Linked DNA regions of Homo sapiens. The protein of the gene in region 3 purifies or fractionates together with the protein of the main gene of each other region. This does not show direct contact. Each region holds a gene or a part of one and is shown on either strand. Other genes may lie near its edges. The genes, in order: OBSL1, FBXO10, FAM219A and WDFY1.

Region 1 (7,040 bases), on a different chromosome or scaffold from region 3:
TGGACTTGCTTAAGGTGATGTGGCTAGTGTCAGGGCTGGATGAGAACTCAGGTCATCTTAGGAACCACCACTTCCCTTCTGGTAGTTTTCTGTGATTCCACAGTGCCCGCTGGCTCTGCATGAAGAGCACACAGCATGAGCTAATGCGCTTCTAGGTATCCTACTCCTAGTCTGGGCCTTCTCCAGAGCCCTCTCTTGTCTCTCTCTCCCCTCTCCACAGAGCCCCGCCTCCGGTTCACACGGCCCCTGCAGGACGTGGAGGGCCGTGAGCACGGGATTGCCGTGCTGGAATGTAAAGTACCCAACTCCCGCATCCCCACGGCCTGGTTCCGTGAGGACCAGCGGCTGCTGCCCTGCCGCAAGTACGAGCAGATCGAAGAGGGCACTGTCCGGCGCCTCATCATCCACAGGCTGAAGGCAGACGATGATGGTATCTACCTGTGCGAGATGCGGGGCCGGGTGCGCACCGTGGCCAACGTCACAGTCAAAGGTCAGCTGGCCCGTGGGGAAGAGGCTGAGGCGGAGGCAGGCAGGTGCTCAGATTCCAGGTTGATGGATTCCTGTCCGCATCTCAGGGCCCATCCTGAAGCGCCTGCCCCGGAAGCTCGACGTCCTGGAAGGAGAGAATGCTGTGCTGCTAGTGGAAACTCTAGAGGCCGGGGTCGAGGGACGCTGGAGCCGTGATGGGGAGGAGCTGCCGGTCATCTGCCAGAGCAGCTCAGGCCACATGCATGCCCTGGTCCTTCCAGGGGTCACCCGAGAGGATGCTGGCGAGGTCACCTTTAGCCTGGGCAACTCCCGTACCACTACGCTTCTCAGAGTAAAATGTGAGGGCAGGAAGGCCTCTGGACAGGCGAGGCAGGGCAGGAGGTTGGCCAGATGCCGGAGCTGGGTTGGTGAAGTAGATTTAAGGTGGAAGGGCTGTGGAGGCCCAAGCAAGGCCGGAACACATCCCTGCCTTGGTCTCAGGTGTCAAGCACAGTCCCCCAGGACCCCCCATATTGGCAGAGATGTTCAAGGGCCACAAGAACACGGTCCTGTTGACCTGGAAGCCTCCCGAGCCAGCTCCCGAGACCCCATTCATCTACCGGCTGGAGCGGCAGGAAGTGGGCTCTGAAGACTGGATTCAGTGCTTCAGCATCGAGAAAGCCGGAGCCGTGGAGGTGCCGGGCGACTGTGTGCCCTCCGAGGGTGACTACCGCTTCCGCATCTGCACAGTCAGCGGACATGGCCGTAGTCCCCACGTGGTGTTCCACGGTTCTGCTCACCTTGGTGAGTTGGTCCTGCCAGACCCACCCATCACTTCTCCTCCCTTCCCCAGCCCTCAGTGCTGGTCCTCTCACAGGCTTGCCATCCGCCAGCCTCTGCCCTCTGCCACACCTTCTAGTTCTGACAGCTGCACTCTGTCCCTGCCTCAGTGCCCACAGCTCGCCTGGTGGCAGGTCTGGAGGATGTGCAGGTATACGACGGGGAAGATGCCGTCTTCTCCCTCGATCTCTCCACCATCATCCAGGGTACCTGGTTCCTTAATGGGGAAGAGCTCAAGAGTAACGAGCCGGAGGGCCAGGTGGAACCTGGGGCCCTGCGGTACCGTATAGAGCAGAAGGGTCTGCAGCACAGACTCATCCTGCATGCCGTCAAGCACCAGGACAGCGGTGCCCTGGTCGGCTTCAGCTGCCCCGGCGTGCAGGACTCAGCTGCCCTCACAATCCAAGGTTGGTGCCAGTGGGGACCTGAGTGGGCAGAAAGGGTCAAGACACAGAAGTCCTGTTGGCAAAACGAGGCAGATGCTGTTTTTATTTCTTGTATCTGGGCCAGGAGAGCAAGGAGCATCCATGATGGGCTGAGGTTGAGGGCTCAGAGGTCCGGAAGGCCAATTTCAACCCACATGCAACATCCAGGGCACCCCTTGTTATCTTGATATATGTCAGCATCATATCCCAATTCTCTGGAGTGCTTTGTGGTTTACAGAATCCTGTCAGATTTGTCATCTCATTTGAAAGACACAGACCCTGGCTGCTAGTCCCTGCCTGCCTCCTGCCATGTTGTCTAATTGTTGACATTGTCATCGCAACTTTCTACGTGCCAGGCGCAGTCCTAATCACCTTACATACATTAACACAATCTTCTCAATGGCCCTATAAGATAGGTTCTTTTTTTTTTTTTGAGATAGAGTCTCACTCTGTCGCCCAGGCTGGAGTGCAATGGCGCGATCTCGGCTCACTGCAACCTCCACCTTGTGGGTTCAAGAGATTCTCCTGCCTCAGCCTCCCGAGTAGCTGGGACTACAGACATGCATCACCATGCCCGGCTTGTTTTTGTATTTTAGTAGAGATGGGGCTTCGCCATGTTGGCCAGGCTTATCTCAAACTTAAGATAGGTTCTTTTGACATTCCCATTTTATAGCTGGGGAAACAGGCAGATACGTTAAGTGACTTGCTCAAAGTACGGAGCTAATGAGCACAGGTGCTGAATTATGAACCCAGGCAGTCGGGCTCCTGATCACACTGTGCCACCTGTTGAAAGGGGGAAGGAGGGGAATGAGGCATCCCTGAGGAGAACAGCTGGAGGTGGGGCGCTCAAAGTTCAAGGATCACGCTAGCATTTGCCATGTCACCATTGCTGGAGTTTGTAAGACCAATCAAGGAATCTGTCGGCACCCATGCACGGGGTCTTGGGGTGATTCACTGTCAGCATCGCAGGCAGAGGGGCCAGGTGAGACCTGACCAGCAACCAGAGCAGCATTTCCAAAATGGGATCCCAGTTCACTGACATCAGAACCACCTGGAGGGCTGGTTTATAATGCAGATTTCCTGGCCCCTGCGTGCTTGGGAATCCAAGAATTCTGCATTTTTAGCAGGCTCCCTAGGAATTCTTATGCACAGCCAAAGCACTGCTCTTAAGGGTTGGTGTGGAAGCCTAAGCCTATTTTTAAAAACCCCAACAACAGCAGTTGTTCCCTCTGATGCATCCGACACTGAGCCCATGCACCGGAGGGAGGGGTGCTTATCTGTACTTCTCCCCACACAGAGAGCCCGGTGCACATCCTGAGCCCCCAGGACAGGGTGTCGTTGACCTTCACAACCTCAGAGCGGGTGGTGCTGACTTGTGAGCTCTCAAGGGTGGACTTCCCGGCAACCTGGTACAAGGATGGGCAGAAGGTGGAGGAGAGCGAGTTGCTGGTGGTGAAGATGGATGGGCGCAAACACCGTCTGATCCTGCCTGAGGCCAAAGTCCAGGACAGTGGCGAGTTTGAGTGCAGGACAGAAGGGGTCTCGGCCTTCTTCGGCGTCACTGTCCAAGGTCAGGAAGCATGCCAGCCTGGGCTCCTCCAGCCAAGGCTGATTGTGGGGCCGCATAAGCCATGCCCTCTGGTCTGCTGCCTACTTGGGGGAGTCCTTTACAGGGAGAGTCCAGTGGCCCAGGGGACATGTTTCAGATAACTCTGCACTTGCTTTTTTGTTTCTTGTTTTTTTTGGAGACAGGCTCTCACTCTGTTGCCCTGGCTGGAGGGCAGTGGCGTGATCTCAGCTCATTGCAACCTCCGCCTCCTGGGTTAAAGCGATTCTCTCACCTCAGCCTCCCAAGTAGCTGGGACTACAGGTGCGCGCCACCACGCCCAGCTAATTTTTTTATTATTTGGTAGAGACGGTTTCACTATGTTGGTTAGGTCACCCCTGACCTCAAATGATCTGCCCGCCTCAGCCTTCTAAAATGCTGGGATTATAGGTATGAGCCACCATGCCTGGCTTTCTTTCTTTCTTTCTTTTTTTAAGATGAGGGTCTCACTGTTGCCCAGGCTGGCCTTGAACTCCTGTGCTCAAACGATCCTCCTTCCTCAGCCTCCTGAGCAGCTGGGATTATAGGTGTGTGCCACGCACAGCGTGCCTTTGCCTCCTAAACCCCTGATACACTAACACTGTCTCGCTGTCCACATAGCCTCTGCTGGGTTGGGTGGGGGAACAAAATGCAATTAAGGGGAGGAGAGATGGGAGCAAACACTTTTTGGACACTTACTCTGAGCCAAGCACTATGCTAAGTATTTTCAATATACACTCTTTCATTTAATCTTCACAACTCGATGAGGGGCAATATATCTCCAGTTCACAGGCAAAGAAATGGAGGCTGTAAGAGGTTATGTGACCTCCGTCACACCATAGCTTGGCGACACACACAGGATTGTTCTGTTCCTGCTGCCTCAGATAGAGTCAAACAGAAGCATCGAGTGCAGTCACCCCGTGGTTCTCACAAGGCAGTCCGTAGGCTGGCTGCTTTAGGAAGCTCCTGGAAGCTGGTTATAAATCCCTGGACTGTCCAGAGCCCCAGTATCCAGGGTGGAGCCTGAAGATCCTTTCCTAACAAGTGCAGACTCTCTGAGAGAGCAGCTTGGGAACCATGGATCCCACTCATCTCACTGAGTGGGAGTCCTGTTTTCCACACTGTGGCCCCTGCCTGAATGCACCCAGTGACAGGGAACCCACTACCTGGAGAGTGGCTGTCTCACTGTTGCCACTTGTTGGATCATCCTTCACCTCCTGCCCACCCTGGGGTCTTTCTCGTAATAGAGGCAGTAAGCATGGCCCTGATGTGACTTGTGACAGTGACCTCCCTTCAGCCTAGACAAATGGTGGCTGCCACTCTGTGAACTCTCTGTGCTTCCTTCTCTCTATGTACTCACCCCGCCACCTCTGATCCTTTGGGGACCTACAGAGCACTCTGGTGCCACATGATCTCCTGCCATGCCTCACCTGCCATGCCCTCAGCATTCCTTGTCATTGTCCCTGAGTCCCTACACAGCAGGACCTTAGCCCTCCTCCAGTGTCCTCTTGTGCAGAAACAGTGTCTCCTGGCCACACAGCTAGTTTGGACTCATTGTGCGGGGGTGTCTGTGCAATGCCATCTCTGCTTCCCACCCAGATCCTCCCGTGCACATCGTGGACCCCCGAGAACATGTGTTCGTGCATGCCATAACTTCCGAGTGTGTCATGCTGGCCTGTGAGGTGGACCGAGAGGACGCCCCTGTGCGTTGGTACAAGGACGGGCAGGAGGTGGAGGAGAGTGACTTCGTGGTGCTGGAGAATGAGGGGCCCCATCGCCGCCTGGTGCTGCCCGCCACCCAGCCCTCAGACGGGGGCGAGTTTCAGTGCGTCGCTGGAGATGAGTGTGCCTACTTCACTGTCACCATCACAGGTGGGGGGCCAGGTGGGCCTCGGAGGCACAGGGGAAGGTGCCCCTGCTCCCACTGGAACAGCTGCCACACCTTCACTCCCAGGCCACTGTTCCCCGCCCCTACTGCCCTCCCCCTGGCAGATCGGACCTCCTCCCTTTCTCCTCAAGCTATGGTCTAGTCACATTCAGGAAACGTGTTATCATAAGCACATTGGTCTTGGCTAAGGAAGCCTGGCTTTCTCTATTCTCCTGAAAACCTGTACCAAGGGAAATCTCTGGGGACAGTGAGTCTATTGCAGGGTAGGGCAGAGTCTAGGGCTGGTGGTCTCAGGCACTAGGGGGGCAAAAACATCTTGGAGGAGGAGACCCCCAGCTCCTCCCCCCAACCCTCCTCTCATCAGTTCCACCCTTCATACCGTCCCTGTCCCAACCCAGAGAATGTGGAGCGTTTCTACAGCCGAGGCTGACCCCGTGGTCCCCTCTGTGCAGCTCCTGCGCAGCAGAAAGTCTGCTGTGCTTTTGTGACAGCTGTATTCGTGTGTCTCTAGCTGTGAGTAACTGTCAGCTGCTGTGAGATTTGGTCTCAGGAAGGTCCCTCTTCAACACATGGCCTACTTTCCAGGGGTAGGGAACACAACGGGGTCAGGGAGGACGGCAGGGCACACCCCTCATGCCCGGCAGTGGCTGTCCCTGTCCTCCAGACGTCTCCTCGTGGATCGTGTATCCCAGCGGCAAGGTGTATGTGGCAGCCGTGCGCCTGGAGCGTGTGGTGCTGACCTGTGAGCTATGCCGGCCCTGGGCAGAGGTGCGCTGGACCAAGGATGGAGAGGAGGTGGTGGAGAGCCCCGCGCTGCTCCTGCAGAAGGAAGACACTGTCCGCCGCCTGGTGCTGCCCGCTGTCCAGCTCGAGGACTCCGGCGAGTACTTGTGTGAAATTGACGATGAGTCGGCCTCCTTCACTGTCACCGTCACAGGTGTGGGCCCAGCCCAGCTCCCCGGGGTCACAGAGACAGCCCTGAGCCCTGGAGGAGCTGGCCACATAGCCCCAGCTAGCACCCCGGGGAGGAGGGAGGTGTGGGCTGCAGGTGCATGTGCCAGGGTTCTTGCTGAGATGAGCCCAGGGCCCCTATTCAAGGAAACAAGCCCCTCCCCGGTGCCCAAGGCCAGGCCTAGCTCTGCTCCACAGCTCATTTACTGAGCACTTTCCCTGAATCAGGCACTGGGAGTAGCAGGTGAGTAATGCAAATACGGTCCCTATTCTGAATGAGCTGCCAGGCTAGGTGAGGAGGCAGCTGTTAACCAGGGGTCGCAAACGGGTAGTCCTGGGGCCCTGCGCATTCCACACATGTGCTTTGTTTGGTCTGCAGAGTCTTACCAAAGTCAGGACAGTTCAAATAACAATCCGGAGTTATGCGTCCTCTTGAAAAAGCCGAAGACCCGGCGGCTCTGGTCCCGCTTCCCCCCATGGCGACGAACAGCTGGCACTGAGTAGCAGCTGCCCCCATAGTTTGGGGCCCACATTCCTCTGTCCCACCTCCCTGCCATTGCTTTTTGCCTCTCCCCAGACTGCTTCAGCCGCTAACCTAACCTGGCCCCTGTGGGCATTTGAGTTTGCGACCCCTGTGTTAAACCAATAAACATGCAAATAAATGTACAGTGACACCTGGTGATAAGTACTGTGAGGGCCAAGGGCAGAGGGCTCAAGAGCACAGAGCAGGAGGGTCAGGGAGGCCTGGGAGAAAGTCACCCTTCCACACACGGGAGCCAGCAGCACGCAGACACGGCCGCTTCCCTCTAGGACTGCACAGCCTGGCAGGAAAGCCAGACGCATTCCAGGATCTTAGAGCATGGGTTGTTGAGGGCCAGTCTAG
Region 2 (7,040 bases), 3.1 Mb from region 3:
GAAAAGGAGCTGGTCTCTCGTGTCACTGGCCACACAGTCTAGGATTTTAAGTGGTTTTCACACGGGTAGAAAATCAAACTCAATATGCCCTCACAATAACCACGAAACAATCTTCAGAACTAAATACCCGAAATGTCCTCTTACACAAGTGAATAAACTAACTTGGTGGGTTCGCTGCTGTTGTTTTTGTTTGTTGTTGGATCCAAGTGTCTTTAGGGCAGACATCACTCTCTTTAACCTTATCAAACTCAAAGCCAACCACAGCATATGAGGGCTGAGGGCCCTGTGAGGTTTCCCTGTCTTTCTGGTCCTCCTCCTTATTAACGGGGAGATGACCAGAAAATGACTTGTCCAAAGTCACTGCTAATACACAGACAGAGACACAGAGTCACAAGGACACGCAGAGGACAGAGCAGGAGCCACCTGCAAACAGGAAGCACGTAAATACAAGAGGGCAACGTGTATTTAAATATCCTCACAAATGGTTTCTGAAAACCAAGAGTCACCCTGAATAGGGAACGAACACAAAGTACCAGTATGAGTGGGTTGGACTTTTTCCGGATGTCTACACCAGCCTCTGCATTGTGGTAAATGTTGTTGCCGGCAATCAAGCCACCGCCCTCCAAGCGAAGAAAGATGCCTGACGCTCGGCAGCGGTAAATGTCGTTCCTGAGCATGATGATCTAAGCAGAAAAGAGAAAGCCATTTATTTTCCTGTTACAAATATTTTTTTAGAAACCACTGGAGGAACACCTGAGTCTTTTCCGCACCACCTGATCCATGCAGTTTACCCCGTAGGCAAGAGAAACGCCTCAATGCTGGCACAGCCACGCTCCCACTGTGTGCTCCCAGGACACAGCCATCTCCAGGCCCTACCTGGCTTTGCCCTGCAGGCTCCTTAGCGGTCTCACATTGGTTCTTTTTTTTTTTTTTTTTTTTTTTTGAGACAGGGTCTTGCTCTGTTGCCCAGGCTGGAGTGCAGTGGCATGATCTCGGCTTACTGCAAGCTCCGCCTCCCAGGCTCACGTGATCCTCCCACCTCAGCCTCCCAAATAGCTGGGGCTACAGGCTAATTTTTGAATTTTTGTTTATTTTTATTTTTACTATGGATGTGGGCTGGAGTAATTTTGTTGTTAACTTTTCTATTTTTTGTAGAGATGGAATCTCACTATGTTGCCCAGGCTGGTCTGGAACTCTTGGGCTCAAGCAATCCTCCCACCTTGGCCTCCCAAACTGCTGGCATTACAGGCATGAACCACTACACCTGGCCCACACTGGTCCTTTAACTAAAACCTGGACCAAAGCTTGGCCCTGTGCTCTATATTCAGAACCTGCAAGCAGCATAGCTGGATGATGGGATAGAAAGGACGCTTAGGGGAAGATGGGACTGAGTGGTCTTCAAACTTTACATGCACTAAGTTTGCATGAAGATTTCCCCAGGGGTCGAGGGTGCAGCTACTTTTAATGAAATAAAGTTCCAGGTCCACCACTTCCAATGCACCTTCACTAAAATCCACCTGTCTGAGACGGCACGGACAGTAAGGTACCACACAGGTTCTCCTCTCCCACCTTCCCTTCCACTTTATAAAACAAAGGCCTGTTCTTGCACATCCTAAATCTTTCATGGTGTATCACCCTGGGGTGGAAAACTACTGAGACTCCAAATGAAGGGATGATTAGAGATATTGGTATAACAAAGCCTCCTTCAAACAAGTTCCCATAACCAGCAACCTGCTAATAAAGGGATATATTTCCAATTACATTTTCTTTTTATGTTTAATAAGTACAGTTGTCTCCCCCATGTCTGTGGGTTCTGCATCCATGGATTCAACCAACTGTGGATTGAATATACATTATTAAAAATAATAAATAATAAAATTGAAAAACAGGCCAGGTGTGGTGGCTCACGTCTGTAATCTCAGCACTTTGGGAGGCCGAGGTGGGCGGATCACTTGAGGTCAGGAGTTTGAGACCAGCCTGGCCAACACGGTGAAGCCTCGTTTCTACTAAAAATACAAAAACTAGCCAGGCATGGTGGCAGATGCCTGTAGTCCCAGCTACTCAGGAGGCTAAGGCAGGAGAATCTCTTGAATCAGGGAGGCAGAGGTTGCAGTGAGCCGAGATTGTGCCACTGTATTCCAGCCTGGGCGACAGAGTGAGACCTTATCTCAAAAATAAAATAAAATTGAATTAAAAAAAACAACAACAGTATAGGCTGGACGTGTTGGCTCATGCCTGTAATCCCAGCACTTTGGGAGGCTGAGGCGGGCGGATCACCTGAGGTCAGGAGTTTGAGACCAGCCTGGCCAACATGGTGAAACCCCATCTCTACTAAAAATACAACAAATTAGCTGGGCGTGGTGGCTCATGCCTGTAGTTTCAGCTACTTGGGAGGCTGGGGCAGGAGAATCGCTTGAACCCAGGAGGCAGAGGTTGCAGTGAGCTGAGATCACATCTTTGCACTCCAGCCTGGGCTAAACAGTGGAGACTCCGTCTCAAAAAAAAAAAAACAAAAAAAACACAACCAACAAACAAAAAAACCCAGTAGAAGAGCTATTTACATAGCATTTGCATCGTATTGGGTATTATAAGTAATCTAGAGATGACTGAAGTGTGGGAGGATGTGTGCAGGTTAGGTGCAAATACTATAACATTTTATATAAGGGATTTGAGCATCTGTGGATTTTAGTATCCTGGAACCAAGCCCCCACGGATACCAAAGCATGATAATATATAAAAAATCTGGAATGTTTATCTATGCTGTCTTAAACAATTATAGATTAATAATAAAATATATTATTATAAATTGTGTACTACTAATAATATATTGCATTAGGACAAAATTCTGTGAAGACTAAAGTAGAACAAGAGTATAAATGGTAAGGTTTCAGCTTCTGCTTAGGATGGAGAAAGTAGAAAGAATATACACAAACATGGACTTTCTGGTGGAACCCATCAGAGCTGAGGCTGCTGGACAACCGGCTAGCCTGAATGCTACAAAAAGACAGGTGCCTTTCGGAGCGTGCAGTGAGCCCAGATCGTGCCACTGCAGTCCGGCCTGGGTGAAAGAGTGAGACTCCGTCTCAAAAAAAGAAAGACAGGCGCCTCCAAGGAGACGAGGCCTGAGCACTTCCCTGCTGAATGCAGGGCTGCATGTGTCATACAAGCCAGTAAGAACTCAGCTAACATTTTCAATGCACTGTTAAAGACCAGCTGTGAATTAGTGTGAGTGCAGAAACTCTGGGAGTAGCTGCACCTGTTCACTTCTCTGTGGCCTTCACTAGGTGTTCATGGAGAAAACTGGGGGCAGATGAGAGACTGGAGACAGCACCCTCCTGACGCAGGCTGGGGACAAAAGTGAGAGAGGCATTAAGCCCCTCTCCTGTGTTCTTTCCCCCTAACTCTCTTACAAAACAAACCGTATGCACAGAGAAACAGCGGGAAAACACTCTTATCTCTGGGGGTGTTGGGAGGAAAGTGACTTAGGCCCAGATCATCAGAGGTCCCCTAGTGCTGGGGGTAGAGCCAGGGTCACTGAAAAAGTCCTGCTCTCAAGACCACAGACACAGCACCTACCTAGACTAAGGATGACCCAGGACAAGAGAGAAACCCTGCCATCACGTAGGGTGACAAATAATGGCAGTCTACTGCTGAGGGAGGGCGAGAGCAGCGGAGATCGCCTCTGAGCAGCAGGCACAAAGGAAGATCTGAAGCGGAGAAAACTAGCACGAGGTAATGCTGGAGAGAGCTGAAGCCTACGGGACGCTGAGGATAATCCTATCATCACCATAATTCAAACGGGCTCAGCTCCTAACTAGATCGACCTCCTAAGAGCCAGGCAAAAGAAGAGGTGTGCCCATTTCCAAACTAAATACTACAGAGCTCAGTCCCCACTGTCCTACATGAGATATCTGACTTCCAACTAAAATTTATGACACATAAAGAAGAAAATCACAGTCGGTGACACTTCTTTTTTTTTATTTTTTTTTTGGAGACGGAGTCTTGCTCTGTCACCCAGGCTGGAATGCAGTGGCGCAATCTTGGCTTTCACTTGCAACCTCCACCTCCCGGGTTCAAGCAATTCTCCTGCCTCAGCCTCCCGAGTAGCTGGGACTACAAGTGCCCGCTGCCATGCCTGGCTATTTTTTTTTTATTTTATTTTAGTAGAGACGGGGTTTCACCGTGTTGCCCAGGCTGGTCTCGAACTCCTGAGCTCAGGCAATCTGCCCGCCTCAGCCTCCCAAAGTGCTAGGATTACAGGCTTGAGCCACAGCACCCGGCTGACACTTTTCTTCTTGGAGCCTCAAGCAACCAGGCTCCTCCTGCCAGCCTTTACCCTCCTGGGATGTTCTAGAGGACAGAGCCAGGTGACAGCCTTCTGTGGGGGAGCAAGGATCAAGGCCTTGCTTGAAAGGGTGAAAGGGTGTGTCTCCCCTTACTTCTGGGCCTTCACACACACCTCCTTTGCCTCGCGTCTTCACCCTGCCGACTTAAGGGGCAGAGCCAGACTTTAACTAGAAAGCCATATTCTCAATAACTATGCAAGGAAGAATGCCCTCCTTGAGGGCTTGAGCCAGATCCTTTCATCGTGGTAGTCACGACAGCAAAGCTATTACCTTTCCCTTTTTATTTGGCCATTTTCTTTTATGTATGTGTACAGGAGTCTTGCATTATGCTTTCAAAGTAACATCACCTGAAATCCTCTTTGGAAGTGGGCTGGGTAAAACACAATTAAATTTAAATTAATTAAAATGTGATTGCTATTAACCATTTTAGAAGCCTGCAACACTCATGAGTGACCTTTGTACAATGTTCTTTAGTTTACTGAATACTTCCGGCATGGGACCTTCCAATAGCCAGTGAGAGAAGAAAAATAGGGATGCTTATTTTCATTTTACGAAAGTGAAGGTCATGTTCATAGTGAGTTAGTGGAGAGGTGAGACTCGAATCTAGGTGCTATGCCATGCTTTCTTCTGCATGGGCTGTCTTTCCCTTCAGAAGGCCTTCCTGTCATCAACCATTTACAGGATTTGCAGATTGTCCTGTGGTGCCCTAAGTCCCAGCACATAGAAGGTGTTGATTGTCGCAGTGGCTAGAAGGACTGTTCTTAGCATAAGGCCCAAATGTCTCAAGGGGGATTCCAGGTCTGGGTAAGGTAGCTTTTGCTCACCCCCAGCTTCATCCTTCAACCTAGCCCCACCGCATGGTTGAATTCAACCTCACACCCAGGCTCTGGCGTAGGATGTTTCTGCTGTTGGGACACCCTCACTCTCCACCCCTTCTTATCACGTGTCCAATTTTCCCTGGACCTTCTTCTCATTGTACCCAGCACAGACGTTTCCTCAACAACCCTACTCCAGTTTGGAGTGAAGGTAGTAATCATATCTCCCTGAATTTTCTCTTATCCAGGCTTTGTTTCTCCTACTCCGACATGGTGAGATATGTGAGCAGCAGCATGACATAGTGAAAAGAGGCAGGAGACCCGAGTTTCTAGTCTCAATTCTGCCTAACTTGCTATGTGACCCTGAGTAAGCCACGTTCTCTCTCTGGGCCTCTCTTTCTGGGAAATGAGAAAAAGCGTTTCTGTCCTTTCCAAATCAGATGATGGGCATGACGTCAAGCGTGCGTGAATAAGTTTAAAGAAAATTATTTTTAAAATGCAAAATAGCCCCATCAAACCCTTCCTACATATAGCCACAGGAGCCCCCTGACCAATCTAAAGTCATGACAGCACCTTGCTATTATGTATACACCGCACTGCGTAAGTCAGGTTCCGGAAGATGTTTCCTTCCATCTTGGCTCTGCCGTGGGAGCAGACGAAGACGCCTCCCTTCCCGTCCCGGAAGAGGCACTTGCGGATGAGGCAGCCCTGCACGGAGTTGGCCAGTGCCATGGCCTCCTTATCCTTCTGCAGCTCCTGCTGCAGTGAGTTCAGCACTAGGCAGCTGGGCAGCTGAATGGATGCTCCTGGTAGAGGTGGGCCCAGAAATGAGCCCCCCAATACAGGGCGTGGGCCCTGCACTTGGTAGGATAGTCTGTACATCAGCTGGTCCTCATCTTCATCCTCACCGCTGGGACTCAGGCCTCCATCGCTGCTGTCCGGGGTCTGGGCCACCCTTTCACCATCACTACCCACCTCTGCCTCCTGTGAGCCAGCCTTGGAGCCTGGCTTTGGGGAGCTAGAGGCTGGGCTGGTAGGGCTCTGGCTGCCCTCGATAACAATGTCACAGGTCTTTGGGCTCCAGGCCTGGTCCCGGCTCTCTAGGTCCAGGGACATTAAAAAGTCAGAGTCCTCTGTGGGGAGAAAAGTGGGTGAGGACTTGATAAGCCCTAGTAGATACTTGTAGGCCCAGTTCTTATCTGCAGATGGGTGACCCTCAACAGTCACAGAGTTGTTTTCACTGCCCACAAATTCACAGTTTTCCAGGACACACAGGGGCACGTTGTGCAGGAAGATATGGGTGTTTTTGAAGGTACAGAACTTCACTTGGCAAGTACCCGGGCCATGGACCTGGATGTGCCCGTTCTCAAAGTTGCAGTTGTCAAACTGGACGTGACCTGATGTTGTCTGGGGAATGAAAAGAAGAAAACGGCTGTAAGAGGGATGAGATTGGTTTTGGACTCTAGCTGCCCTTTAAGGAGGGTAGAACATGGAAAGGCCATTTGTTCTGCTGATCATCTTCCCCTCCCCACTGGGGTCTGGATGTCAGCTGTCCCCAAAAGGAACTGGGGAGCTGCTCTGCATCAGAGAGGGAGGGAAACTGGAGCTGCCCGCACCTCCATCCTTCTAATCTCAAAGGAAGGGAGACAAGTAGATGATGGCAGAAAAGTTCACACTGCAGCATGACTCCTCCTAAAACCTCAAGTCTCAATCACGTGCCAGGGCTAGGACAGGCAGTGAGAGAGGCCTAGCCGCATGTGCTGGCAAAGAGTTCTGACTGTGTGGCAACTGATGCACGTGGTGCACAGCAAAATATGTCTCTAAAGAGAGGGGACAAGGTATACTGCCATTGCCAGGAAGCATTGAACAGTGGTTAAAA
Region 3 (7,644 bases):
CAACCTCCTGGGCTCAAGCAATCCTCCTGCCTCGGCCTCCTGAGTAGCTGGTACTACAGGCATGCAGCACCATGCTGAGCTAATTTTAAATATTTTTGTAGAGATGGAGTCTCACTGTGTTTCCCAGGCTGGACTATCTTAATTCTTTATGCCCCAAAATGAAGACTCCTGAAGAAACATCACACAAGATTCTGCTGGTCTCAACAATACACAGGGTATTTAAAGGGTTTTGAGGTGCCTCTGGAATACAACCTGGGGACAGAGGTCAGGAAGCGGGGCAATGTCTATGACCCTCAAATGAGGGATGACTATATTGCTATTTCCATAAGGCTCTCACTCAAACTCAATAAAGTATTCTCAGGCCGGGCATAGCAGCTCACTCTTGTAATCCTAGCATTTTGGGAGGCCGAGGCAGGCAGACCACTTGAGGTCAGGCATTCAAGACCAGCCTGGCCAACATGGCGAAACCCTGTCTCTACTAAAAATACAAAAATTAGCCATGCGTGGTGGCAGGGGCCTATAATCCCAGCTACTTGGGAGGCTGAGGTAGGAGAATCGCTTGAATCCAGGAGGTGGAGGTTGCATTGGGCCAAGATCGTGCCACTGCACTCTAGCCTGGGTGACAGAGAGGGACCCTGTCTCAAAAAAAAAGAAAAAAAAGTATTCTCTTGCACAAGGGTGACTTTAGCAGTTAAAGGGGTCTGAAGGCAGTCAGAGCTTTTCTAAGTGCCTCCTTGCCACAGATGCTTCTCCAACTCCAGGGCCACACAGACCGGAAGCAGCTCAAGAGTTCTCTACCCAGCCAAACCACTATTCAGAATTTCAGGCAATAACAGAAGCACCAAGGACAACTGAGAGCCTGGTGGCTCTATTTCTTCTCCCCTTTCCTTGAACAGCTATTTCCTTCCTTTTTGAGAACCCCAGATGGGTGACAAGAAACAACTCATTGCTTCCTTTTCCTGACACACTTGAACCTCCTCTTCCTTCATCCACCCTCTATTTTGATTCTTGATTAGATGCTTAGAACTGGAAGGGCAATCTCGTTTGACAAGCCAGGTTAGCTAGAAAGAGAACTCAGAAAGGAAAATTATCTTCAGCCAGCCCAAAGTCCTTCTTTAAGTTCATGGGATGGACTTCTCTCCAGGATTTTCTGGCTCCCAAATAATCCAATGATGGCATGAGGCTAGGAAAAAGTCCTGCAACACCTCTCTCCGGTTTAATATTGTATGCTTCTGTAAAACTTCTTTGTTTTGGCTCTTAGAACTGTCTAAGCAGTCATGAAAGGGGGAAAAAGCCTTTGTCTCCTGCTAAGTGGCCACTAATGATTCTCTCTACCATCCCTCAAAAGGTGTGACAAAAAGGTGGTGATGGGTCCCTGCCGAGGCCCATCTTGGCTGCTGTAATGGGTAGGTTACTCGCCCAGGAAGCTACAAAGCACATCTGTCAGCCAGGGGGTTATAGGCCCAAGGGTAGACCTGTTTCTGGCCACCCTGCCTAACACAGAAGCAGAACTTCAGAACTTGGAGAACTCAGCTCTGCTCCAGCCAGCACAGCTCAGAGAAATGGGGCATCCACACTTTCGGATTTGTAGCCCACCTTGCCTCCTTCCAATTCCAGCTCAGGCTCCAGGGGGATAAAGCGAACACAGCCTAGACATTCCCTCTCTTCCCCCCTCACTATACGAGCTGGCTAGGCCTCCACGTCTCCCACCCGGTTGCCTGACAGACAAGCGAGGTCAGGGAGCCCCCTGGGCGGTGGCCAGCAAGCATGGTCTCCCTTAGGCCTAGCCTCGGTGCACCCGAGTTGCCCTCCCCCTTCCATTCCCTCCGCGCCAGCAGCGATGACATCATTCCTCCCTGACTCCGGGACCGCGGACAGGCGGCAGGATCCGCGCCCAGCAAGGACTTCAGGCACGTAGGCCTAAGATGATGGGGGCTCTTCCCAACCAGTGCGCACAGGCAGCTCCAGCGCGACCCCACTTCCTCTCCCGTCGGTTCCCGAGCACTCTCATCTGCACCCCGATTCCCCATCTGGTCGCCGCGCACTCTCCTTCCCGGTTTAGATGCCCCCAGCCTGGTCTGCCTGCGCTCCCCACCGGAGAACGGAATTCCCAGGTTCTGCACCAACCACCTTCCCCCACTGGGTCCCTCGCCCCGGCCCAGCGTTCCTGTCCGTATATCCAGCGGACAGGCGGGCAAGCCCCTCCTCTTCTAAAAGCTGATTCCCAATCTCTCTTAGCCTGACGGCTCCCCCGCCCTAAGCATCACAGGCCTCTAGGACTAAACGCCTCCCCACCTCCCATCCCAGACCCCTGGGCCTGCCGCCGGCGGTGCCCCATGGCAGTTCCCTCGCCAGTCCCTGCTATGGGCCTCCACTAGCGGTGTGCACCTTTGTGCCCCCTCCGTTCCATCCGACGGTGCCCTGCTTCCACCGACGGTGCCCTCCGCCCTTACAGGTCCCTTTGCTCTCATCCAGCATATTCTCCCACGGTTTTCTTGTCCTGCAAGTCCCCGTCCCCCGGCAATACGTTTTCAGGGATCTCTTTGCCCCATCCGATGGCGCCCCTCCGCACGATCCCCCCGGCCTGATTCCCTCCCTCCCCCTCAAGCGACGCCCCCTCCGGCCTTGGCCTGCCCGCCGCCCGCCCCCTCACCAGCGGCTGCATCTCCGAGTGCGCGGTGGGCACCTGGAACCGGTCGATCTCCTCCATCATGGTGCCGGCGGGCGAGCGGGCCAGGGGCCGGGCGCGGCCGCGGACGCCGACAGGACCGCGCGGGGCGGCGGCCCCAGGAGCCCGGCGGGTGGTGCAGACTAGGCCTCCCCGGACCACTCGGGCGGGCAGGGGCCGGGCGGATGCAGGGGTGGGCGGGGGCGAGAGGTTCGCAGACTGGCTGAGGCCGGCGTGACTCCGTGGGCTTGCCTAGCACTACCGCGGCTGTGGCCGGGCCGAGCCGCAGGTCTTGCCTCGCCTCCTACTCCGCTGCCGCCTCCTGTCAGCAGCTCAGCCACTGCGGTGACTCGGCAACTCCACTTCCGGGTCCGGGACACCGCCCGGATCTTGCATTATTCATGAGGAGGCGGTGCCTGGGGACCCCAGCCCCACCCACATGCGGGAGTTCCGAATGCGCGCGGCCGCCCAGCTGTGATTCCTGAGGGGGCGGGGCTTAGTGGAGACTCGCTCGCCGCGCGCCCAACCCCGCCTCCTTTCCGGGCCGGCTGGGCGCGCCGAAGCGCCTGCGCCTTGGCTGCTGGTCGGTTGCTGGGTAACCGCGTCAGGGAGTTGGATTCTATCCTGCAAGGGCACGGGGACCCACAACGACGGCTGTCCCTAAAGAACCGTTGCGACTGGTAACTGAAGTGGAAGAGAGTCCAGATTTCTTGTGTGTGGTCAAGGAGACGGACAAACTTTTTGTCTTCAGACGAGGGAGCGTTTTGTAGGCTCTCCAGGGGTTGAGATGATTCCTGCTTCTGCGAAGGCTCCCCATAAACAGCCTCATAAGCAGGTAACGTACGCACACCTTCCTTCTGATGACCTCTGACCTTCGTCGTCGCCAGTGACCACTAATCATACCTCTCCTACTGATCCTTGATCTTTTCTCTGTTGACCCCAGCCTTCTCACCCCCGTGACCTCTGGTAAGTGCTCCCACTGACCTCTGACTCTGTCCTACTCTTTCCCACTAATCCCGGCCTCCTCTCCCATACTACCCCAATCCACCGTTTCTTACCTCTCTCCTTTTATCCACCATTCCCATCTCTTCACTTCACTTTACCCCATGGACTCATTCTGACCAGTCTATTCTCCTTAACTTCCCCATCCCCATTCCCACGAGTCCCTTCCTCCTTGTTCTCACATTCTTGTCCCAAAGGAATTTTTCTTTTTCTTTTTCTTTCTTTCTTTCTTTTTTTTTTTTTGAGACAGAGGCTCGCCCTGTAGCCCAGGCTAGAATGCAGTGGCGCCATCTCAGCTCTCTGTAACCTCTGCCTCCTGGGTGCAAGCGATTCTCCCACTTCAGCCTGACGAATAGCTGGAACCAAAGGCATAGGCCACCACGCCCGGCTAAATTTTGTGTTTTTGGTAGAGACGGGGTTTCCCCATGTTGCCCAGGCCCGTCTCTAACTCCTGAGCTCAAGCGATCCTCCTACCTTGACCTTCCGAAGTGCTGGGATTACAGGCGTGAGCCACGGCGCCCAGCCTCAAAGGCATTCTTTATCCAACCCTTTGCTGTGTGCCTAGCTCCAGGCTAGGTGGGAACACAGCTCTTGCTGTTTGGGAGCCCACAGAGGGTGTGCAAGAGAACTAAACAGAATACAGGACAGGCTATGTGCAGGAGTGTGATTTTATTTTCTGTGCTGGGAGATTTATGAGGAGAGAAAGGGCAGGCAAAGAGGAAGAGGAGAGAGGCCCTTTTCTCATCCCTGTCCTCACCCCCACAGTGCACAACCCAAACACTCTGCCCCAACTATTTCTAGAGCCTCATATCTCTCTCTTCCCTGCGAGCCCCTGGTCCACTCCTATGATTCATTCAGCTATGTGAACATTATGCTCTTATTACCACCTGGACAGATGTCATCCCTTCTCACAGGAAACCCGAGTCATCCCCCACTTAACCCACTGAGCACAGAGTTCTGCTTTCTTCCTCAGCATCACCACGGAAGGCAAGGCAGTCCCAGTTTCCCAAGGAGTCTTCTGTGGTGAAGCAACTCAGTCCTTCAGGAACTTTTTCCAAACCCTTTATGAATTACCACTCAGGCTAATGTGTAGTTTCTAGCTCTGGAAAGCAGGACTTCTATATATTTATTCCAGATTTACCCCACTCAAGTCTAGGTACATTGAGGTTTAGAGAGCCAATCTCCATGCTACTTATGACTTTGCATATTTTGGTCTGGCCACCTCCATGTTAGCCTTTGCTCCTCTGCCTCTTTTACCTGGGCTTCTGTAGCAGATGGACCTGACTTTCTTAGGTCTCTGCAGCCTTGGGGAAGCTGCTAGTCCCATATGAACATGCCCTAATTTTATGTTGGGGTTGGGCTTTACGTTGAAGTTCATGTACTGTGTTTGAGCCTCCTGACCCTATATTTACAGGCAGTTTGCTTTTATTTATTTTTTATTTTTGTATTTTTTATTTTTGAGACGGAGTTTCACTCTTGTCACCCAGGGTGGAGTGCAGTGGCGCAATCTAGGTTCACTGCAACCTCCACCTCCCCGATTCAAGGGACCTGCCTCAGCCTCCCAAGTAGCTGGGATTACAGGCATGCACCACCATGCCTGGCTAATTTTTTTTTATTATTTTATTTTATTTTATTTTTGAGACGGAGTCTTGCTCTGTCGCCCAGGCTGGAGTGCAGTGGTGTGATCTTGGCTCACTGCAAGCTCCGCCTCCTGGGTTCACGTCATTCTCCTGCCTCAGCCTCCCAAGGAGCTGGGACTATAGGCGCCTGCCACCACGCCCAGCTAATTTTTTTGTATTTTTGGTAGAGACAGGGTTTCACTGTGTTAGCCACGATGGTCTTGGATCTCCTGACCTCGTGATCTGCCCGCCTCGGCCTCCCAAAGTGCTGGGATTACAGGTGTGGGCCACCGCACCCAGCCAATTTTTGTATTTTTAGTAGAGACGGGGTTTCACCATATTGGTCAGGCTGGTCTCGGACTCCTGACCTCAGGTGATCCACAGGCCTAGGCCTCCCAAAGTGCTGGGATTACAGGGGTGAGCCCCCGTGCCCCAGCAGTTTGCTTTTAAAATAAACATTATTGAGGTTTGGTTTACATATAATAGAATGTACCATTTTAGTTGTACGTGTTGACAAATTTTAACAAATTTACACACGTATAAACCACTACCACACTCAAGATATAGGATACTTTCTCTATCCCAAGAAGTTCCCTGTGCCTCATCCCACCTCCTATGCCCCACCCCTGGCCTGCCTAGGTAACCACAGATCTGCTTTCTGTCATTACAGATTCAATTTGTCTTTTCTAGCAACTTGCAGTTTGAACAAGCTTGGGGATGGGTTTCTCTAGCCCATTAGGGAGACATTAGAGACTAGTTACACTGAGAGCAGGGAGAGGTGACAGCAGACAGAAAGCAGAAAAAACTGGGTCAACTGGCCCCGTACACATCAGCACTGCCCCATGGAGGGAAGGGTTGTTTTAGTTCAGAGTAAATATTGGCGTGTGGGGTGTGAGAAAAGGTTAGGTTGTGCTAGGTTGTATTTACCATTTTCTTGCCTCAGTGAAGACCAATTTGAGTCAGTGCTAATCAGGTGTGGGATGTCCTAGAGATGTTTGAGAAGTTGTCCCTGTCCTCTGGGAATTCAGTTCAATGGGGGAGACAGAACACAGGCAGAAAAAGATAAAGGAGGATGGGATCCCTGGGGATGAAGGGGAGAGAAGCCTGCAGGTTAGAGCAGCAGAAAGGCTTCAGGGAGGAGGTAGGTAGGACTGGGTTGCCAGGGGTGAGGGAAGATCAGGGTTGGGTTTGTTAGAGGATAGAGAGGAGTTTAAATTCCATTTGTTCATATCACTCCACTAGTCGCCTTTTAATGGTTCCTTGTTGCTTTCAGGATAAAGTCCCAAAAGTCCAATTTGCTTGGTATGGCCTTTGCCACCCTGCATGGTCTTGCCTTTGCTACCCATCCTACTTCAAACCTCACCATTTCTCTATGAAAATTCCACAATCCCAGCAAACTGAACTGCCCTCACTTCCTGGAAAGTGATATTCACACTGTTTATCTCCTCTAAGCTTTTGAAATCTTTTCTGTCTGTGTCTACTAGTCTACTCCACCCTACCCCAAATCTTTCCTTCATATCCTATTCATATTTCGGGTCTAAGCTTGGCCCTCATATTCTTCTACAAAGGATTAAGTCCCCTTTCTGGAGGCAGGATAGGGTGATATCCCCTCTAGACTATAAACTATGTTATGGTAAGGATCATGTCTGTCTTGTTCATTGTTGATTCCCCTCTACCTAGCACAATACCTGGAATATATTAAATTCTAAGAAAATGAGTTCAATATGAATTCTGAATGCCCTAAGTTGTTCTTGGAAATTATCATCTGAATGTGTTCGAAGGATGGGAAGGGGTGAAGCTGGGATGGGGAGACTTGTGGGGAATTATAACAAGGAAATGTAACTGTGTAAGTATGGTTTTCCAGGTACATGTTTGTATCTGCTTTGGCAGTAGGGCTATGAATGATTCAAATTTGAACCACAAGTATCCATGCCTTAAGAAATGGGTTTTGGAGACTAAGAGATAAAAATATTGATGTGTAAATATTCATGCAGTAATTATTTATCGTACCCACTCTGTGTTAGGTACTGTTCTAGGTATTGGTGATATAGCAAGAAACAAAACAAACAAAAATCCCTGCTCTCATGGAGCTTATTTTTTAGTTGGAGGTAAAGTGGCAATAAATAAATTTGTAAAATATATAGTATATTAGATGGTGATAGATGCCAAGAAGAAAACTAAATCAGAGAAGTAGACTAAGAAGTTCAGGGAATCACAAGATTATCATTTAAATAGGATGGACAGGGAAGGTGTTACAGAGGTGGCATATGAGCAAAGACCTGAAGGAAATGAAAGAGCTATGCAATACCCGGGGGTAGGGTGTGGGGTGAAGGGATGGGGATAGGGGAGGCATTC
Region 4 (7,701 bases), on a different chromosome or scaffold from region 3:
TGAAGTCTGGGTGACAGAGTAGTAACACTCTGTCTCAAGAAAAAAAAAAAAAAGGTAAACCAAGGCACAATAATATTTTAAAGGGCTTATTTGTGTAAACAGCAATTCATGAATCGGACAGCTCTAAACCGGAAGTGTTTCCAGGGCTCTGTTGGAGAAGCATAAGGGTCAAACTTGGAAGAGTGAATGCAGAAATAATGCAAAGAAAATAATTGATTACAGTTATAAAGTGGCTTTATTTGGTCTATCCTGTGGGAAAATCCCTAGTTATTTAATTGTAAGTCTGTTGACTGCTTCTGAATGGTTGAGCTTAAGTTTTGTTTTTCTTTAATACAGGCATTTACAAGAAATAGTTCAAGTTAAGTTTCACTTATGTTTGCAAATCAAGCAAGGTTAAGATCACTTAGGAGGACTGACTGGCTTTGTCTCTTCGGGGAGTCTTCAGCCCTGGTTTCCATTTTAATTTAGTTTAACAGGCGAATCCCTGATTAAAATTTTTGAACAAGTATTTGTAGAGGGCCTTTCTCTCACTTAGTTTTGACCATCCTGCTGCCTTAAGATCAAGCATAAACTTGGCTCCTGAACTCTACCACCACCCAGTGAGCATCTGCTGACCCTGCAGAGGGTGGCACAGCAGGTTCCATCACTGTGCATTTAACTCCCAGAGTAATGGCTGCAGTCCAGACCTCTCTACTATTCAGTAGCATATACAAAACTCCTATATTCAGGCTGGTCATGGTGGCTCACGCCTGTAATCCCAGCACCTTGGGAGGCTGAGGCAGGTGGATCACCTGAGGTCAGGAGTTCGAAACCAGCCTGGCCAACATGGCAAAACCCCGTCTCTACTAAAAATACAAAAATTAGTCAGGCATAGTGGCACACGCCTGTAATCCCGGCTGCTGGGGAGGCTGAGACAGGATAATTGCTTCAACCAAGGAGGTGGAGGTTGCAGTGAGCCAAGATCGCACCACTGCACTCCAGCCTGGGCAACAGAGCAAGACTCCATCTCAAAAAAAAAACAAAAAAAACAAAAACAAACAAACAAACAAACAAAAACCTCCTGTATTCAACTGCCTACTCAGCCCCTTCACTTGGAGACCTAATACTCGTCTCAAGCTTCCTATGTCCAAAACTGAATTCTCCTTCTTCCCTTCCAAACCTGCTCCTCCTACATTTTCCACAGATCAGTAACTGGCAGCTCCACTTTTCCAGTTGCTCAGCCCACAAATCTTGGTATCATTCTTAACTATCTCATATTCAATATTCAACAAATTTCACTGGTACTACCTTCTACATAAGTCTAGAATCTGATGTCCTCTCACCACCAGCACCCTTAGAAAGCCACATCATTTCTCAATTACCCTGTTAATTTCTCAAATAACTTCCTGACTGACACCTTGCTTCTATTCTTGCCTTTTAAAATTGAAGGCAGATTAGCCCAGGCGCAGTGGCTCATGCCTATAATAATCCCAGCACTTTGGGAGGCCAAAGTGGGTGGATCACCTGGGGTTGGGAGTTCGAAACCAGCTTGGCCAACATGGTGACACCCTCTCTACTAAAAGTACAAAAATTAGCTGGGTGTGGTGGCACGTGCCTGTAGTCCCAGCTACTTGAGAAGCTGAGGCACGAGAATCACTTGAACCCAGGAGGTGGAGGTTGCAGTGAGCCAGGATCGCACCACTGCACTCCAGCCTGGACGACAGAGTGAGACTTCGTCTCGAAAAATAAATGAATACAAATTTAAAAACTTGAAGGCAGATTAAACCAGCCTTCTGTTCGAAACTCTCCAATGGCTTCCTATCTCATTTGAAGTAAAAACCAAAGCCCTTATCAATGGTCTCTGGGCTCAACATGGTCTGTCTGGTGACCTGTCTGTGCTGTTTTTCTCTGAGCACTCCCTCACTCACTCTGCTCCAGCCTCACGGGGTGCCTGGCTGTCTCTACAAAACCCCTGGCATGTGCTCACCTCAATGCCTTAACACGTGCTCTTTTCTTTTCCAGAAAAGTATTTGGCCCACATTTCCACATGGCTTACTCCCTCCTCTCCTTCTTGGCTCAAAATGTAACTTTACAATGAGGCTTTTACTTGTCTCAGGTTGCATTCTCCAGCAGCAGATACGGTGATAGAGGTTGGCTCAGAGGGTGTTTATTAGGAATCAATGCCTGTGAAGGGAGGGGGAGGTACCAGGATTAGGCAGGAGAAGTCAGCTGCAGTACACGCCTTACAAAGCCTTGTCCAATCTAGGAGAGAGTTCTAGAGCAAGTGTTGCTCATCGGTCTGTCTTGATGGTCAGGCCTTTATCCTCCTATCTTGTTCAGTTACTGAATGTGGGCTTCCCTGTGAAGGGAACAACTGAGACCCAGTGGTTCTCAGCAGCTGGGGCAGTCCCTGAAGGAGCTGAAGGCTAGAGGCTCTCTGCTGACCACTGTTCTTCCCTGAAAGCAGATCTGTGCAGTGTATTCCTGAATCTATCACACCATCTATTTAAAATCGCAACATCCCCTAGAGTCCCTATCACCCTTCCCTGCTTTATTTTCTCCATAGCATTTAATAGCATTGAACATCTTCTAATATATTATATAATTTAGTTTACTATCTGTTTCCTTCACTGGGATGTAAGTTCTAACAGCAGAGGGATTTTTGTCTCTCTTGAGCACTGCTGCATTTAGAATGGCACCTGGCTCACAGCAGGCACTTGGGAGATGTTGGTTGATTAAACAAAGTTGTTCAGTAGCGTGTCTAGTCATTACACTGTACAGCCTCACAAAAACCATGTCTTATTAATCTCATCAGCAACAGCATATAGTAAGTGTGCGATATATGTCTGTTGAATATAGGAATAAATAAATTCATGAATGTTTGTTAATAACTTCATCATGAGAAAGTATTAGTACAATGGTGGCTCCTGCCCGTAATCCCAGCATTTTGGGAGGCTGAGGTGGGCAGATGATTTGAGGGCAGAAGTTTGAGACCAGCCTGGTCAACATGGTGAAACCCTGTCTCTAGTAAAAATACAAAATTAGCCAGGCATGGTGGTAGGTGCTTGTAATCCCAGCTACTCGGGAAGCTGAGACAGGTGAATCCCTTTAACCTGGGAGGCGGAGGTTGCCGTAAACCGAGATCGCACCACTGCACTCCAGCCTGGGTGACGGAGTGAGTTCGTCTCAAAAAACTAAAACAAAACAAAACAAAAACAAAAAGAAAGTTCTAGTAAATCACTGTACATAGAAGTACCATCTGATTCACATCCATAATTTAAAGTTTTTATTAGCTACCTTAAAAAAATAAGCAGGTCATATTAATTTTAATAGTATCTAACTCAATATATCCAAAATAGTATCATTTCAACATGTAATCATTGTAACAATTATTGATGAACTATATTACATCTTTTTTGTTTTGTGCTAAGTCTATAAAATCTTGTAGTATTTTGCACTTGTACTACATCTCAGTTTGGACAAGCCACATTTCAAGTGCTCTATAGTCATGTGGATAGTACGGTTCTAATGCAATTCTGCAATTCAGGTGTCAGAATAATATAGTGGGGCAGAAGTTTGGAGTCATTGACTTCCTGAGTCCAAATTTTGGCTCTTGAACTTACTGGTTGTCAATGACCTCTAGCCAAAAACCACCAGGAACAAATGGGGTTGATTGCTTGTTGGAGGGAGAAGACACACCATTGGGAATGGTGAGGTGTCTGGGTAAAGGGATGTTCGGACAGTTTTATTATAGGATTTGTGTTTGTGTTAGGTGACCTGGGAGAGCTTAAGGAAGAGAGGCTCTCCTGTGGACTGGATGTTGTCAGGAAATGCGTATAATTCTAAGGTTGCATATCTTAATAAATCTTATCTAAATGGAGGAAGACTAGATAGCGGTTAACATTATAATTAATAAAGAAATAAGAGTCACTCATATTAGCCAGGATAGGGGGATGTTTGGTAATTTCTGTGGCTTGTACATCGCTCATATTTTGGCCGTGTTTAGATGTGATTATGGAGTGGCCTCGTCTGATGTTTATGTTCCACAGGAAGCAAACACTTCCTAGCAACACCAAAGCTCAGCTGATAGTACCAGGCAGCTCCTGGAGATCAAGGGCTGCTTTTCTCCCTCTCATAGCTGTGCAACCTTAAGGTAGTGATCAAACTTCTCTGGTTGTTTTCTCATCTCTAAAATGGGAATACAAGAGCATCTATTTCATCTCTTAAAATTATCAGTATTAAATGAGATGCAAAGACACTGAGTTAATGCCTGGTATATGGTCACCACTCAGTGCTATCTATTGTAGTTCAAAGATTCTAAGATGCACTATATTTTTTCACATTTTAACATTTCTGAAAGTGTGTGCCTTTCAAACAATGGCTTCTTCAAATGGATGAAATGTAGTATTGTAATTTCTGAAATCTCTGGTTTGGGGGACAATTCCTTGTCCCCTCCAGGTGCTCAATTTATTCCTGGGTGAATGGCTTTACTTTTAAACCTTCCTTACTTTCCCCATTTCTCCGCAGGCGCCCCGTGGCATCCTCTCCCAGCCACAGACTTTCAGCTTGCGCGGCATCCCCAGGCAATACGGGCGGTGCGGCGGCAGCACTCGGGGGCTTACGGCGGCGCGGCGCCCAAGAGGCCCCAGCAGCCGAAGGGAAACCGGCGCGTCCCCCGCCCGCCCAGGCGTCAGCTGATGGGCTGCCTGCCGAGGAGGCCGCAGCAGTCGCCGCGCGAACATGGCGGCCGAAATCCACTCCAGGCCGCAGAGCAGCCGCCCGGTGCTGCTGAGCAAGATCGAGGGGCACCAGGACGCCGTCACGGCCGCGCTGCTCATCCCCAAGGAGGACGGCGTGATCACGGCCAGCGAGGACAGGTAGGGCCCGGGCGCAGCCGGGGCGGCCCGAACTCCGCGACGACGGGGTGTGGGGGCGGTGGGGTCCGCGGCCCCGGTCCTTCCTGCGTGAGGGGGCTCCCCCGGCAGCACGGCCCCACCCCCACTCTGCGCCCCTTAGCTCCGCCGGGTTCCCGGTTCCCTCCCGCCGGTCCTCCAGCCTCGACTTGCACCTTTCCAGCCTGGGACCCCGGTCTCGCCGCGCCCCTCCAGCCCGGATCCCCTGTCCCACCGCGCCCCTCCAGCCCGGGAACTCCGTCTCACCGCGCCGCCCAAGCCCGGGACCCTTGTTCCAACGTGTCTTTCCAGCCCAGGACCCCTGTTCCAGTGCGCCCTACCGCGCCCCTCCCAGCCCACCTCGCCCCTCCTGCTCAGGACCCCTGTTCCAATGCTCCCCAACGCGCCCCTCCAGTCCGGGACCCTTGTCCCACTGCGCCCGTCCATCCCGGGAGCTCCGTCCCACCGCGCCCCTCTAGCCCGGATCTTCTGTCCCACTGCGCCCCTCCAGCCCGGGAACTCTGTCCCACCGCGCCACTCAAGCCCGGGACCCCGGTTCCAGTGCGCCCCAACGCACCTCTCCAGCCCAGGACCTCTGTCTCACCGCGCCCCTCCAGCGCGGGAACTCTGTCTCACCGCGCTGCTCAAGCCGGGGACCCCTGTTCCAGTGCGCACCAACGCGCCCCTCCCAGCCCACCGCGCTCCTCCAACCAGGGAACCCCGACCTGCGGTGTCGCACTAGCCTGGGACCTTCGTCCCGGTCTCTCTCCCTGGCGGGGTTTAGCCTGGTACTCGGAAGGTGTTTCTTGGCCCTCCCGGGTCAGTTCCAAATCGTCTCCTCTGGAAGCGTGGAGGACCGGCGGCTGGTCACTGCGGACCCTGGTGCCCGGGGCTTGCTTCTTTGCGAGGAACTCCAGCCGCCTTCGCTCTCTTCCTCCCCCTGTACTCAGGGATTTCACGCCACGCCAGGCCTCTAGATCAGTTATTTTTGCCACGGCTGCTAGAATCACCTGAACTCTTATTTACTAAATAGGTTTTTGTGAAAGTGACTCATTTTTAAAAATATTTGGATGCATTTATTTTAAAAGGAAATCTTATTTATTAGGAAAACTAACATTACTCACCAGACAGAGTAAACTAATAACTAAAACATGTTAATTGGCATGCACACAGAGTCCTCTCTTGCACTGTGACATCTTGCATTGGACGCCCACCATGCTTTTGGGAAACACTGATTGGGTCCAGTTTTCTCATTTCTCCTAAGAGGAAGCCGAGGCTGGTGGAGGTGTAGCTTGCTGCTAAGTTACAGAGATACTGGTGAAGCCGGAAATGCAATCCAGAACTCCCACCAGCTCTGGGCCTGAGTGATTGGATTGGAACAGTATTTATGATTCGACTTTAAACTTTAGCGTCTTTCAAATCCTAAAGGTTTACAATGTCAGTAGCTTTCCGGTGGGAATTTGAAGGAAATGACTGATGTTTATTGAATGAAACTGTGTTTCCTTGATGCAATGAGCCGTCTTAAATAGGGATAGTCCACAAGTCCAAAAGCTTTCTGGAGGATGGAAGGTACTGCTATTCTCTTAAAGCTGAAGGCGTGGTCTCTAGCCTTTTGTAATTATACCTTTTGAAGTGACATTGACCCTATCCTGAATGGGAAGAAAAAGCCTGAAGCCCCCAACTCCTGTTGGTCCTTTGGATTTTGCTTTTGAGTGAGCTTGTGCCTTTTTCCTCAATTAGATAATGAGCTGATTGTGAGCAGGCAGTGGCCTCTCCCTGCTGGTTCACCTGTAGCTGACTTCCAACAAGGAGGGGAGTGATTGGCAGGACCTGGCTGTGGGTCTGTAAAGCAGAAAGGAGTGAGAGAGATCGAGTGCATGAGACCTGGGGAGAAGGTGGGGACCTGAAAAAGGCAAGGACAGAATAATGACTTTTTTTTTTTTTTTTTAAGATGGAGGCTTGCTCTGTCACCCAGGCTGGATGGAGTGCAGTGGCATCATCTTGGCTCACTGCAACCTCCGCCTCCCAGGTTCAAGCGATTCTCCTGCCTCAACCTCCTGAGTAGCTGGGACTATAGGCGCCTGCCACCACGCCCAGCTAATTTTTCTATTTTTAGTAGAGACAGGGTTTCACCATGTTGGTCAGGATGGTCTCGATCTCCTGACCTCGTGATCCACCCGCCTTGGCCTCCCGAAGTGTTGGGATTACAAGCATGATCCACTGGTGTCCGGCCAGAATAATGACTCTTGCATGATGTGAACGTAGATGCAGACAACACTCTTTAAAAGTTAGCCTTTGGGCCGGGCGCGGTGGCTCACGCCTGTAATCCCAGCACTTTGGGAGGCCGAGGCGGGTGGATCATGAGGTCAGGAGATCGAGACCATCCTGGCTAACAAGGTGAAACCCCGTCTCTACTAAAAATACAAAAAATTAGCCGGGCGCGGTGGCGGGCGCCTGTAGTCCCAGCTACTGGGGAGGCTGAGGCAGGAGAATGGCGTGAACCCGGGAAGCGGAGCTTGCAGTGAGCCGAGATTGCGCCACTGCAGTCCGCAGTCCGGCCTGGGCGACAGAGCGAGACTCCGTCTCAAAAAAAAAAAAAAAAAAAGTTAGCCTTTGGCCAGGCGCAGTGGCTCATGCCTGTAATCCCAGCACTTTGGGAGGCCGAGGCGGGTGGATAACAAGGTCAGGAGGTCGAGACCATCCTGGCTAACACGGCGAAACCCAGTCTCTACTAAAAATTCAAAAATTAGCCAGGTGTGGTGGCAGGCGCCTGTAGTCCCAGCTACTCGGGAAGCTGAGGCAGGAGAATGGCGTGAACCTGGGAGGCAGA

Evidence for each region.
Region 1: the proteins of FAM219A (region 3) and OBSL1 purify together in Homo sapiens (affinity purification with mass spectrometry; 4 studies listed by BioGRID and IntAct, with this or other methods). This does not show direct contact.
Region 2: the proteins of FAM219A (region 3) and FBXO10 purify together in Homo sapiens (affinity purification with mass spectrometry; 3 studies listed by BioGRID and IntAct, with this or other methods). This does not show direct contact.
Region 4: the proteins of FAM219A (region 3) and WDFY1 purify together in Homo sapiens (affinity purification with mass spectrometry; 3 studies listed by BioGRID and IntAct, with this or other methods). This does not show direct contact.

The regions. Positions count from the first base shown.
Region 1 is NC_000002.12:219,561,505-219,568,544, reverse strand, and holds part of OBSL1 (obscurin-like protein 1 isoform 1 precursor), read left to right. Parts: intron 1-220; coding exon 221-490; intron 491-575; coding exon 576-827; intron 828-969; coding exon 970-1,272; intron 1,273-1,418; coding exon 1,419-1,715; intron 1,716-3,030; coding exon 3,031-3,303; intron 3,304-4,917; coding exon 4,918-5,190; intron 5,191-5,870; coding exon 5,871-6,143; intron 6,144-6,536; coding exon of another isoform or gene 6,537-6,661; exon of another isoform or gene 6,662-6,823; intron 6,824-7,040. UniProt on the Homo sapiens protein: Core component of the 3M complex, a complex required to regulate microtubule dynamics and genome integrity. It is unclear how the 3M complex regulates microtubules, it could act by controlling the level of a microtubule stabilizer.
Region 2 is NC_000009.12:37,531,376-37,538,415, forward strand, and holds part of FBXO10 (F-box only protein 10), read right to left. Parts: intron 6,569-7,040; coding exon 5,735-6,568; intron 684-5,734; coding exon 534-683; intron 1-533. UniProt on the Homo sapiens protein: Substrate-recognition component of the SCF (SKP1-CUL1-F-box protein)-type E3 ubiquitin ligase complex. Mediates the ubiquitination and degradation of BCL2, an antiapoptotic protein, thereby playing a role in apoptosis by controlling the stability of BCL2.
Region 3 is NC_000009.12:34,455,551-34,463,194, forward strand, and holds the start of FAM219A (protein FAM219A), read right to left. Parts: upstream 3,021-7,644; 5' UTR 2,714-3,020; coding exon 2,654-2,713; intron 1-2,653. Other genes in the region: DNAI1 (dynein axonemal intermediate chain 1), read left to right, coding at 3,456-3,503.
Region 4 is NC_000002.12:223,942,303-223,950,003, reverse strand, and holds the start of WDFY1 (WD repeat and FYVE domain-containing protein 1), read left to right. Parts: upstream 1-4,668; 5' UTR 4,669-4,719; coding exon 4,720-4,856; intron 4,857-5,448; exon of another isoform or gene 5,449-5,525; intron 5,526-5,596; exon of another isoform or gene 5,597-6,780; intron 6,781-7,701. UniProt on the Homo sapiens protein: Positively regulates TLR3- and TLR4-mediated signaling pathways by bridging the interaction between TLR3 or TLR4 and TICAM1.